Linked DNA regions of Homo sapiens: regions 1, 3 and 4 are each linked to region 2. Evidence: fine-mapped expression QTL. A gene starts in region 2. Each other region holds a variant in brackets. All regions are shown on one strand. Distances are from middle to middle.

Region 1 (2,610 bases), 40 kb before region 2:
ACATGCACATGAGCAGAGGAGATACATTCAGGGCACATGTACACTGTGCTTCATTGACACTCCACTTGCAGATTGCCTTTGCAATGCGCCATATGCACAGAATTTCAGTGGACCACTAGGCTTGGGAATTCAGTGAGACTTAAAGTAAATAAAAGGTAAGCATTTTATATATGGGACTGAGTAAGAGGAGGGCGATGGAACAGGACACTGACAGCTTTTAGAGCCAGTGTATTCCTTTGAACACAACCTTGCTTCAAATGCAGAAAGAAAGCAGTGGCCTTTCATGATATCTGAATAACCAAAGAAGCCTATCACACCCTTTCTTAATTAAGTTGTGTTCTTATATTGGCCAAGCACTTACATAAAAAATGATGACACAGAAGGAAAGGGAAAAATAGGACAGCCCATAGTTCCTTTTCCTTTCAGTCTTTCCTTACTTGCCTGTAGCAAAAGGTAGAGAGTGTTGGTAGAATGTGCATGTATCGAGAAGTAAAATAAAAACTGTTGCACTGCTTTGGTGCAAAATTTCTTCTTATTTGGTAAGAGGAAAATACACATGCATGTATGAACTATGAAATATAAATTGTATAATTTCAGTAATTATACATATAAATTAAATGCTCTTATATCAGCATCTAAATGTGGTATTACACAATACAAAGATGAATGGTAAAATTCTTTGAAGTAATCAAAATTTTCTTCTTCACTTAGAATGACATTAAATAGCAAATAAAAGAGACATGACAAAACAATGCGGAGACTGTGGGAGAAAGGTAACAGCTTGATAGTTTAATACGTTTAGTGGAACTTTTTTTGTGCTTTTTGAATAAGGGGCCCCACGTTTACATTTTAAACTGGGTCCTGCAGATAACGGAGCTGTCTCAGCCCAGTTGATTGACGTCCTGGAGAGGATCCCTCAATGGCAGAGAGCTTGGTGACATGTTCTAGATGTTGCTTCAGGCGTTTTTGTTTGACTGTGTTTCTTGACTCCCTCATTGTGACAAACTTCTCCAGATTCTCTCAGGGCTTTTGAGGCCAACTCATTCACCCTCATTACCATTTCCCTGGCCTATCCCAAACTTATGCTGTTGCCTTGTTTCTCCAAGAAAGGCCTCAGCATTTCCAAAATGCTTTTCAAAGCATCACCAGGACAATAGAACTCTTTTTTCTTGGCTATGGAGTCCTGCCGAGCCACAAACAGATGGAAAATATAATTCATCCCCTCAAAGATCTGGAAGATACTAAGTGCCACAGCATTTGCTCTGCACCTGGCTCTTCTATGGACCCGATCATCCAAATGAACTTACGGGTCACTTTTTGGGTGTATTTGTGCCAGTGATTTTGCTGATGGGTCTATTTGTCCTTTTATTTCTGGTTCACAC[G/A]GGAGCTCATTATGGTAGTTATAAAATTAGATTTGTGGTGTTTGGAACCTAGCAAAGAGATCCATGAAATTGCAATAGACTACTTAATTATCCAAATTTTTAAGACTAACCTTAATTCATTTATGTATTGTTTCAACGGCACCGCATCTCACATTTTTTTTTCAAGTGGGTATTTTATATTTTGTGCTGATTAACCCCTTGTAAGTGATACATTGCACATATTTTCTCCTAATCTGCATTTTGTTGTTACTTTGTGGCATCTTTCAACATGTATAAACTTTCTTTTAAATTTTGTGTAATGAAAAAGTTTAGTCTTTTTCTGTATTTATTTATTAGAGATGGAGTCTCACTCTGTCACCCAGGCTAGAATGCAATGGTGCGATTTCCACTGGCTGCAGCCTCTGCCTCCTAGGTTCAAACAATTCTCCTGCCTCAGCCTCCTGAGCAGCTGGGATTACAGGTGCCCACCAACATGCCCAGATATTTTTGTATTTTTAGTAGAGATGGGGTTTTACCATGTTGGCCAGACTGTTCTTGAACTCCTGATCTCAAGTGATCTGCCTGCCTCAGCCTCCCAAAGTGCTGGGATTACAGGCATGAGCCACTGTGCCAGGCCTCTGTATTCTTAAATTTTATGCCTATGAAGGCTTTTCTATACCAAAAATAACTTTAAAATTCTTCTATAGCATTTGAACAATGTTATAGTTTTATCCTTAGAACTCTAATGAATTAGAATTTATTGTCTGATAAATGTATAAGAGAAACATCTAAATTTACTTATCAAACTAGATAGATTCTTAAACAAACAGCTACTTATTGGATAATCTAACTCTTTTTAACTGTTTTGAAATATGATATTTGCTATATGCCAAATTCTTGTGTGTATATATGCCTTCTTTTTCTCTCTATTCTTTCATTAGACTATTTGCTTTTTCTTGTACTTATATCACACTGTTGAAGTTATTACAACTATGTAGTATATTATGATATCTAGTAGGACAAATTCTCCTTCAATATTCTTCAAAAATTCCCTGGTTATTGTCTTGATTTACATTTTACAGATATTTTAAGATCAATTTTTATAATAAAATTCTTTTGGAATTTAAATAGAAATTGTATTAAATTTAAAGATTTACTTGGGGAGATTTGGCATCTTTGTAATGTTGAATACTTTCCATCTTGTAATACCTTGCCATTTTATTGGATCTTAGAAAATTTTAACTTTTCC
Region 2 (2,610 bases):
GCTGATTCAACTGAAAAAAATGTTTCTTTAAGAAGGGTGAATTTGTGTCTAAGGATTTTATGAGACTAACTGGGAAAAGTCAGTCAGAGTTTAGTTTGAGGTGAGAAGTGCTTACTGTTGACACTCTACCTAATTATAGGGAAATGTGTGCAGTTAGTCCTGAGACCAGATGCAGGGTTGAAAGAAAGAGGTGTGATGTAGCAGCCATTGATTAGGCAATTTGGGTTTAGCAAGCCCAGTCAATGCCCTCAGAGGGTCAACAGTGTATAAGATTTAGTCCTTGAAGGCATCTTTTAAAGTTTCATTCAGAAGATTTTAATAATTTTGACCATAATTTTCTGAGAAGAGGCTTTTCTGAGATTTGTCATTCACAGATAAACAGTTGTCTAATTTGTGTGTGTGTGTGTGTACATGTGTGCATGCGTGCATTTGTGCATGTGTGCCTATCTAGCCTCTTTTGAACACAATGGTAGATTGGCACCTGGTAGATAATATTGTTGAATGAATTGTATTATTCATATTATCTCACTGCCAATTTGAAGAATCTACATTCTGTTTCCAAAGTTTTGTGCATATAATACTAAACCAGAAACAGACGTGTTTTAGTAATACGTACCAATTACAAATTAACCATTCCTGCCTGGAATAAACACAGGTTTTGTTAAATAGCTCAATTTTCAAAATTTGTCTCATGTTATTTCCAATCCTTTTTTTTTTAACGCCGATATATTTTGAATTTACGAATGTGAAAGCTGAACTTCAAAAAAATAAAGGGAGAGGAAACAAAGCTCGTGAAAAATTTTAAAAATATCTTTTAATGCGTTATAACATCCTGGAGAGAAATCAAATCAATGTGTTTCAATGTTACAATATAGATTTCTCCTCCCCTCCCGGATAAAGCACTAATTTATTTAATTTGGTTCAGAGCACTGAATATTCCAAGCTACAGCCTTGTGGGTAAGAGCATTATCTTAAAGAGTGTTCGGATTTAACAAAGGTCAATGTCTTGTGCAGTTTACATAGTATCTACTCTCAGTAGCTTTTGCTTCTTGAGCTCTAGGTGGCTCCTCAGAAGCTGTTAGGCTTAACAAACAAAAATAAAGTAAAATCAGACACGGTATGGGGCCTTGGGACTCTAAAACCTTCATCCGGAGAAAATCAGTTAAGCCTTCAGAGACTAGAAGAGAGAATGTGTGTGATTGGTAGGCAAAGCAAAGAAAGATTAACACAAGTTGTCTGGCAGCTGGATAAAACCTTACACCTGCGCAAAAATAAGCCTCCCTCGTAAGAAAGCCCAAAGATGTCCGGGGTCCGGGAGGAGAAAAGTGTTTCTCATCTGTCCCATCAAAGCAAATTAGTGAAACCTGCCTCAGGTGAAGTGCAAAGGCCAGTCTGTAGGCAGAGTTTCGACCTCTCCCCACGAGATTGGCTAGACATCACCTGCCCAAGCTCTCTCCCGACCTGCTAGAGCCGAGAGGGCGGAGGCCGGAGAGGCTGCAGCCGGGAAGTAGCACCGCCACCGCACATCCGGGAACGCCAGCAGCCGGCTGAGGGCTGCATAACTGATGGAGGGCCGGGCGCGGTAAGAGCGTCTCGGGGGAGTGGGGCAAGGCGGCCGGGCCCCTCCCATTCCGCCTTTTCTTCAGCGTCCTACCCGCGGCACTGGCTGCGAGCGCCGGGCCACCTGCGAGTGTGCGCAGGGACTCTGGACACCCGCGGCGGCGAGCTGAGGGAGCAGTCTCCACGAGGACCCAGGCGGACCCTCTGGCGCCATGCGCGCCCTCCCCGGCCTGCTGGAGGCCAGGGCGCGTACGCCCCGGCTGCTCCTCCTCCAGTGCCTTCTCGCTGCCGCGCGCCCAAGCTCGGCGGACGGCAGTGCCCCAGGTGTGATGGGTACAGGGTCCAGGGTAGGGAGGGCGGAGGGCGCGCGAGGCTCGGGTCCCCGCGGGCAGAGGGCATCGCCGGCGCGCCGGGCAAGGGTGGCGGGGAGAGGCGCGGGGATGCTGGTAAGGGCGGGTGGGAGAGTCGGCGGCGGCCTCCCATTAGCTACGTTTGTGTCACCTAAGCTGAACCCTGAAACTGCTGCGGCTCGCGTTCCTGCGCTCTTTGGGGCGAGTCTTGAACGAACAGCGCCCCGCGAGTCGGGCGCGTAGGTAACAGGGCAGAGTCTGGTTTTTCCTAGGAAGAAGGCAGTGGGGTGTGTGGGTGGTTGCAGGGACCAGCTAGCGACTTGGCTTGGGCAAATATGGCATGAATTTTGAAAGCCACATTTCCCCAAGGCCTACTCCCTTTTCTTGATTCGAGAGTAAGGCTCGAGTATCACCTCCTTCCCTCCTCTTGGCAGGTGGGTTGGCTTTGAGGATTTTTTTTTTTTTTTTTTTTTTTTTTTTGAGACGGAGTTTTACTCTTGTTGCCCAGGCTGGAGTGCAATGGCGTGATCTCGGCTCACCGCAACCTCCTCCTCCCGGGTTCAAGCGATTCTCCTCTGTCAGCCTCCAGAGTAGCTGGGATTACAGGCATGCGCCACCACGCCGGGCTAATTTTATATTTTTAGTAGAGACTGGGCTTCTCCACATTGGTCAGTCTGGTCTCGAACTCCCAACCTGAGGT
Region 3 (2,610 bases), 190 kb before region 2:
ATATTCATGTGTTCTTTCACCTTGCCAAAGGCCACATGCTTGCCATCCAAACACTCAGTCTTGGCAGTGCAGATGAAAAACTGGGAACCATTTGTGTTGGGTCCAGCATTTGCCATGGACAAGATGCCAGAACCTGTATGCTTTCGGATGAGGTTCTCATCATGAAATTTCTCCACCAGTGCCATTATGGTGTGTGAAGTCACCACCCCGACACATAAACCTTGGAATAATTCTGTGAAAGCAGGAACCCTTATAACAAAATCCTTTCTCTCCAGTGCTCAGAGCATGAAACTTTTCTGCTGTCTTTGGAATCTTGTCTGCAAACAGTTTGATGGAGATGCGGCCCGAGGGCTTGGCGTCGACGGCGATGTCAAAAAACACGATGGGTTTGACCATGGCTGATAGTACAGGGCTCCCAGCGACGGTGGCATCTGCAAAGATAACCACTGATCTTTTTACTGTCTTTATAGTTTGGCCTTTTGCAGAATGTCATATAGTTGAAATCACAGTATGTACCCTTTTCAGACTGGCTTCTTTCACTTAGCAAAATATATTTGTTTTTTCTGTATCTTTTTGTGGCTTGATAGTTTTTTCCTTTTAGCACTGAATAATATTCCACTGTATGAATATACCACAGTTTGCTTATGTAATCACCTATTGAAGGACATCTTGGTTGCTTCCAAGTTTTGGCAATTAGTCTTCATTAATTTTTTCTTTTTTTTTTTTTTTTTTTTGAGACAGAGTCTTGCTCTGTCACCCAGGCTGGAGTGAAGTGGCATGATCTCAGCTCACTGCAACCTCCGCCTCCCAGGTTCAAGTCATTCTCTTCCTCAGCCTCTGGAGTAGCTGGAATTACAGGTGTGCACCACCACGCCTGGCTAGTCTTCATGAATATTTATAGGACTGTATAGAATTAAGAGCCATCAAAGGGGATCCCTGAATTCTTTCTGTTTTTCTTACAAATACCAGTTTTAAGGTCAAGATTTACTACCCCATGCAACAGTGTGCCACATTTTAAATTTTAAATTTTTGACTGTTTGTCTAAAGGTCTCAGGCAACCTAAAAGGCCAGTTAGAAGTCTTTCATCCTCTAACAAAGGATGGATCGTAAAATGAAATACTGTTGAGACTCTCCCCTTGGGTACTAATTCTGCAAAAACCTAGAATCTCAGAGACAAGAGACAAATATTTGGAGTGGATCATTAGATGTAATGACAAAAGGAGTCACTTCAACATTCATAACAAAGATCAAAGATTGTTGTATTTTTTATATGGGAGACACCAGACAAGCTTATACTTAGTTACTAGTTCAGAGGATACACCACCACATCCTCTGGCATGAGTACAACCTTATAAGCCATTGTCTCCAGCTGGCACTGTGATTGAGTCTTTAATAAAATATTCGCCATTCTATAATAATAATAATTTTGGTTAGTGATAGGATAAATGGTGGACCAGGTGAGTGCAGTGAATATCTACTCATTTGTTATACAACAAGTTCTTTGAATAGAAGGATGTAGAACAGGAT[A/G]TTATGGCAGTATGTATAAAGCATTCAATGTACCCACGGAGAGTGGTGATCAGAGAAACATGATGTCAGGTCAAGCAAATGTAATTCAAGGATATAAAGCTAGATTCCATTTACAACATTCCTTGTTGCCTTTATCATAGAGGAGCTCCAGTAAAATCAACAAGTCTGACAAAAGGTGACTGTTTTTTTCACCCAGGATATGTTATTTTGTGCTTAGCCTTGGTCCTTGTTGCTTGTGTGTTGGACACCTAATAGTCTTGACAGCTAAATAGGCTTTGGTAAGGGACAGTGGTAAAGTCCAACATGTTGCTAAACCTATATGTATTCTCTACTGCTACCACCAATGTTGCTGTTTATTAGCCTTCTGAGCAAGCAATGTAGTGCCTGGTGAAAGAAGTTGTTTCATACCTTCATATTTATTTGATAACCTTCCTGATGATAGTTTGGTGAGTATTCATATTAAGCACAAATATTCTTACACTCTGGCTCATTTTCTGTAGTTCATCTACGTATTTTTCCCCAAAACTCATTGTCACCAATCCTTCAATCTTTGTCCTTCCAAGTCCCTAATTATCTTTTTTTTTTTTTTTTTGAGACGGAGTTTCGCTTTGTTGCCCAGGCTGGAGTGCAGTGGTGCAATCTTGGCTCACTGCAACTTCTGCCTCCTGGATTCAAGAGATTCTCCCGCCTCAGCCTCTCGAGTAGCTGGGACTACAGGCACACACCACCACACCTGGCTAATTTTTGTATTTTTAGTAAAGATGGAGTTTCACCATGTTAGCCAGGCTGGTTTCGAACTCCTGACCTCAGACAATCCGCCTGTCTTGTCCTCCCAAAGTTCTGGGATTACAAGTGTGAGCCACCAGTCCTGGCCCCAAGTCCCTAATTACCTAGACAAATTTTTAGCTGCCACATATAAATCAGTAATATCTCTCCTTCTAGACATCGTGGACAACTGATTACATAGGCTGAATTTCTTTTAAAATTGCATTCAAGTAGGTTATAATGCCTAAGCAATCTACTTTTGGCTGTTGCTGTGATGTTGTACAGCGACTTCTGTAAATCAGGCTCAATTTTTCCCTC
Region 4 (2,610 bases), 51 kb after region 2:
TGATATTGATTCTTCCTATCCATGAAAATGGAATGTTTTTCCATTTGTTTGTGTCCACTCTTATTTCCTTGAGCAGTGGTTTGTAGTTCTCCTTGAAGAGGTCCTTCACATCCCTTATAAGTTGGATTCCTAGGTATTTCATTCCCTTTGTAGCAATTGTGAATGGGAGTTCACTCATGATTTGGCTCTCTGTTGGTCTGTAATTAGTGTATAGGAATGCTTGTGATTTTTGCACATTGATTTTGTATCCTCAGCCTTTGCTGAAGTTGCTTATCAGCTTAAGGAGATTTTGGGCTGAGACAATAGGGCTTTCTAAATATACAATCATGTAATCTGCAAACAGAGACAATTTGACTTCCTCTTTTCCTAATTGAATACCCTTTTTTCTTTCTCTTGCCTGATTGCCGTGGCCAGATCTTCCAATACTATGTTGAATAGGAGTGGTGAGAGAGGGCATTCTTTTCTTGTGCCAGTTTTCAAAGGGAATGCTTCCAGTTTTTGCCCATTCAGTATGATCTTGGCTGTGGGTTTGCATAAATAGCTCTTATTATTTGTAGATATGTTCCATCAGTACCTAGTTTATTGAGAGTTTTTAGCATGAAGGGGTGTTGAATTTTGTTGAAGACCTTTTCTGCATCTATTGAGATAATCATGTGGTTTTTATCATTGATTCTGTTTATGTGATGGATTGTGTTTATTAATTTGCATATGTTGAACCAGCCTTGCATCCCAGGGATGAAGCCGACTTGATCGTGGTGCTTTTTGATGTGCTGCTGGATTCGGTTTGTCAGTATTTTATTGAGGATTTTCGCATAGATGTTCATCGGGGATATTGGCCTGAAATTTTCTTTTTTGTTGTGTCTCTGCCAGGTTTTGGTATCAGGATGATGCTGGCCTCATAAAATGAGTTAGGGAGGATTCTTTCTTTTTCTATTGTTTGGAATAGTTTCAGAAGGAATGCTACCAGTTCCTCTTTGTACCTCTGGTAGAATTTGGCTGTGAATCTGTCTGGTCCTGGGCTTTTTTTGGTTGGTAAGCTATTAATTATTGTGTCAATTTCAGAACCTGTTATTGGTCTATTCAGAGATTCAACTTCTTCCTGGTTTAGTCTTGGGAGGGTGTATGTGTCGAGGAATTTATCAATTTCTTCTAGATTTTCTAGTTTATTTGCATAGAGGTGTGTATAGTATTCTCTGATGGTAGCTTGTATTTCTTTGGGATTGGTGGTGGTATCCCCTTTATCATTTTCTATTGCATCTATTTGATTCTTCTCTCTTTTCTTCTTTA[T/C]TGGTCTTGCTAGCAGTCTATCAATTTTGTTGATCTTTTCAAAAAACCAGCTCCTGGATTCATTGCTTTTTTTTTGAAGGGTTTTTCTTGTCTCTCCTTCAGTTCTGCTCTGATCTTAGTTATTTCTCGTCTTCTGCTAGCTTTTGAATTTGTTTGCTCTTGGTTCTCTAGTTCTTTTGATTGTGATGTCAGGGTGTCAATTTTAGATCTTTCCTGCTTTCTGTCATGGGCATTTAGTGCTATAAATTTCCCTCTCCACACCGCTTTAAATGTGTCCCAGAGATTCTGGTACGTTGTGTCTTTGTTGTCATTGGTTTCAAAGAACATACTTATTTCTGCCTTCATTTTGTTATTTATCCAGTAGTCATTCAGGAGTAGGTTGTACAGTTTCCATGTAATTGTGGGGTTTTTAGTGAGTTTCTTAATCCTGAGTTCTAGTTTGATTGCACTGTGGTCTGAGAGACTGTTTGTTATGATTTCTGTTATTTTGCATTTGCTGAGGAGTGTTTGACTTCCAATTTTGTGGTCAATTTTAGAATAATTGCGATGTAGTGTTGAGAAGAATGTATATTCTGTTGATTTGGGTGGAGAGTTCTGTAGATATCTATTAGGTCAGCTTGGTCCAGAGCTTGGTTGAAGTCCTGGATATCCTTGTTAATTTTCTGTCTCATTGATCTGTCTAATATTGACAGTGGGGTGTTAAAGTCTCCCACTATTAATGTGTGGGAGTCTAAGTCTCTTTGTAGGTCTCTGAGAACTTGCTTTATGAATCTGAGTACCCCTGTATTGGGTGCATATGTATTTAGGATAGTTAGCTTTTCTTGTTGCATTGATCCCTTTACCATTATGTAATGCCCTTCTTTGTCTCTTTTGATCTTTGTTGATTGGTTTAAAGTCTGTTTTATTGAGACTAGGATTGCAACCTCTGCTTTCCATTTGCTTGGTAAATATTCCTCCATCCCTTGATTTTGAGCCTATGTGTGTCTCTGCATGTGAGATGGCTCTCCTGGATACAGCACACCAATGGGTCTTGACTCTATCCAGTTTGTCAGTCTGTGTCTTTTAATTGGGTCATTTAGCCCATTTACACTGTTAGTATTGTTATGTGTGAATTTGATCCTGCCATTATGATGCTAGCTGGTTATTTTGCCTGTTAGTTGATGCAGTTTTTTCATAGCATCGGTGGTCTTTACAATTCGGTATGTTTTTCCAGTGGCTGGATCAGTTGTTCCTCTCCATGTTTAGTGCTTCCTTCAGGAGCTCATGTAAGGCAGGCCTGGTGGTGACAAAATGTCTCTGCATTTGCTTGTCTATAAAGGATTT

What was found.
Region 1: its variant is fine-mapped to the expression of EMB in whole blood (TOPMed, PIP above 0.99).
Region 3: its variant is fine-mapped to the expression of EMB in whole blood (INTERVAL, PIP above 0.99).
Region 4: its variant is fine-mapped to the expression of EMB in whole blood (TOPMed, PIP above 0.99).

The regions. Positions count from the first base shown.
Region 1 is chr5:50,480,547-50,483,156 of GRCh38, reverse strand. No RefSeq gene overlaps it. Among named protein-coding and RNA genes, the nearest start is that of EMB, 41 kb to the right of the region's middle. The variant G/A (reference allele first, on the strand shown) is at 1,383.
Region 2 is chr5:50,440,314-50,442,923 of GRCh38, reverse strand. EMB (embigin) reads left to right here and starts at 1,636. Exons shown (of 9, transcript NM_198449.3): 1 at 1,636-1,884. The coding sequence starts at 1,773. RefSeq lists silencers at 1,693-1,822, 1,903-2,092.
Region 3 is chr5:50,630,916-50,633,525 of GRCh38, reverse strand. It overlaps the pseudogene LOC202319. Among named protein-coding and RNA genes, the nearest start is that of PARP8, 34 kb to the left of the region's middle. The variant A/G (reference allele first, on the strand shown) is at 1,528.
Region 4 is chr5:50,388,919-50,391,528 of GRCh38, reverse strand. No RefSeq gene overlaps it. Among named protein-coding and RNA genes, the nearest start is that of EMB, 51 kb to the left of the region's middle. The variant T/C (reference allele first, on the strand shown) is at 1,288.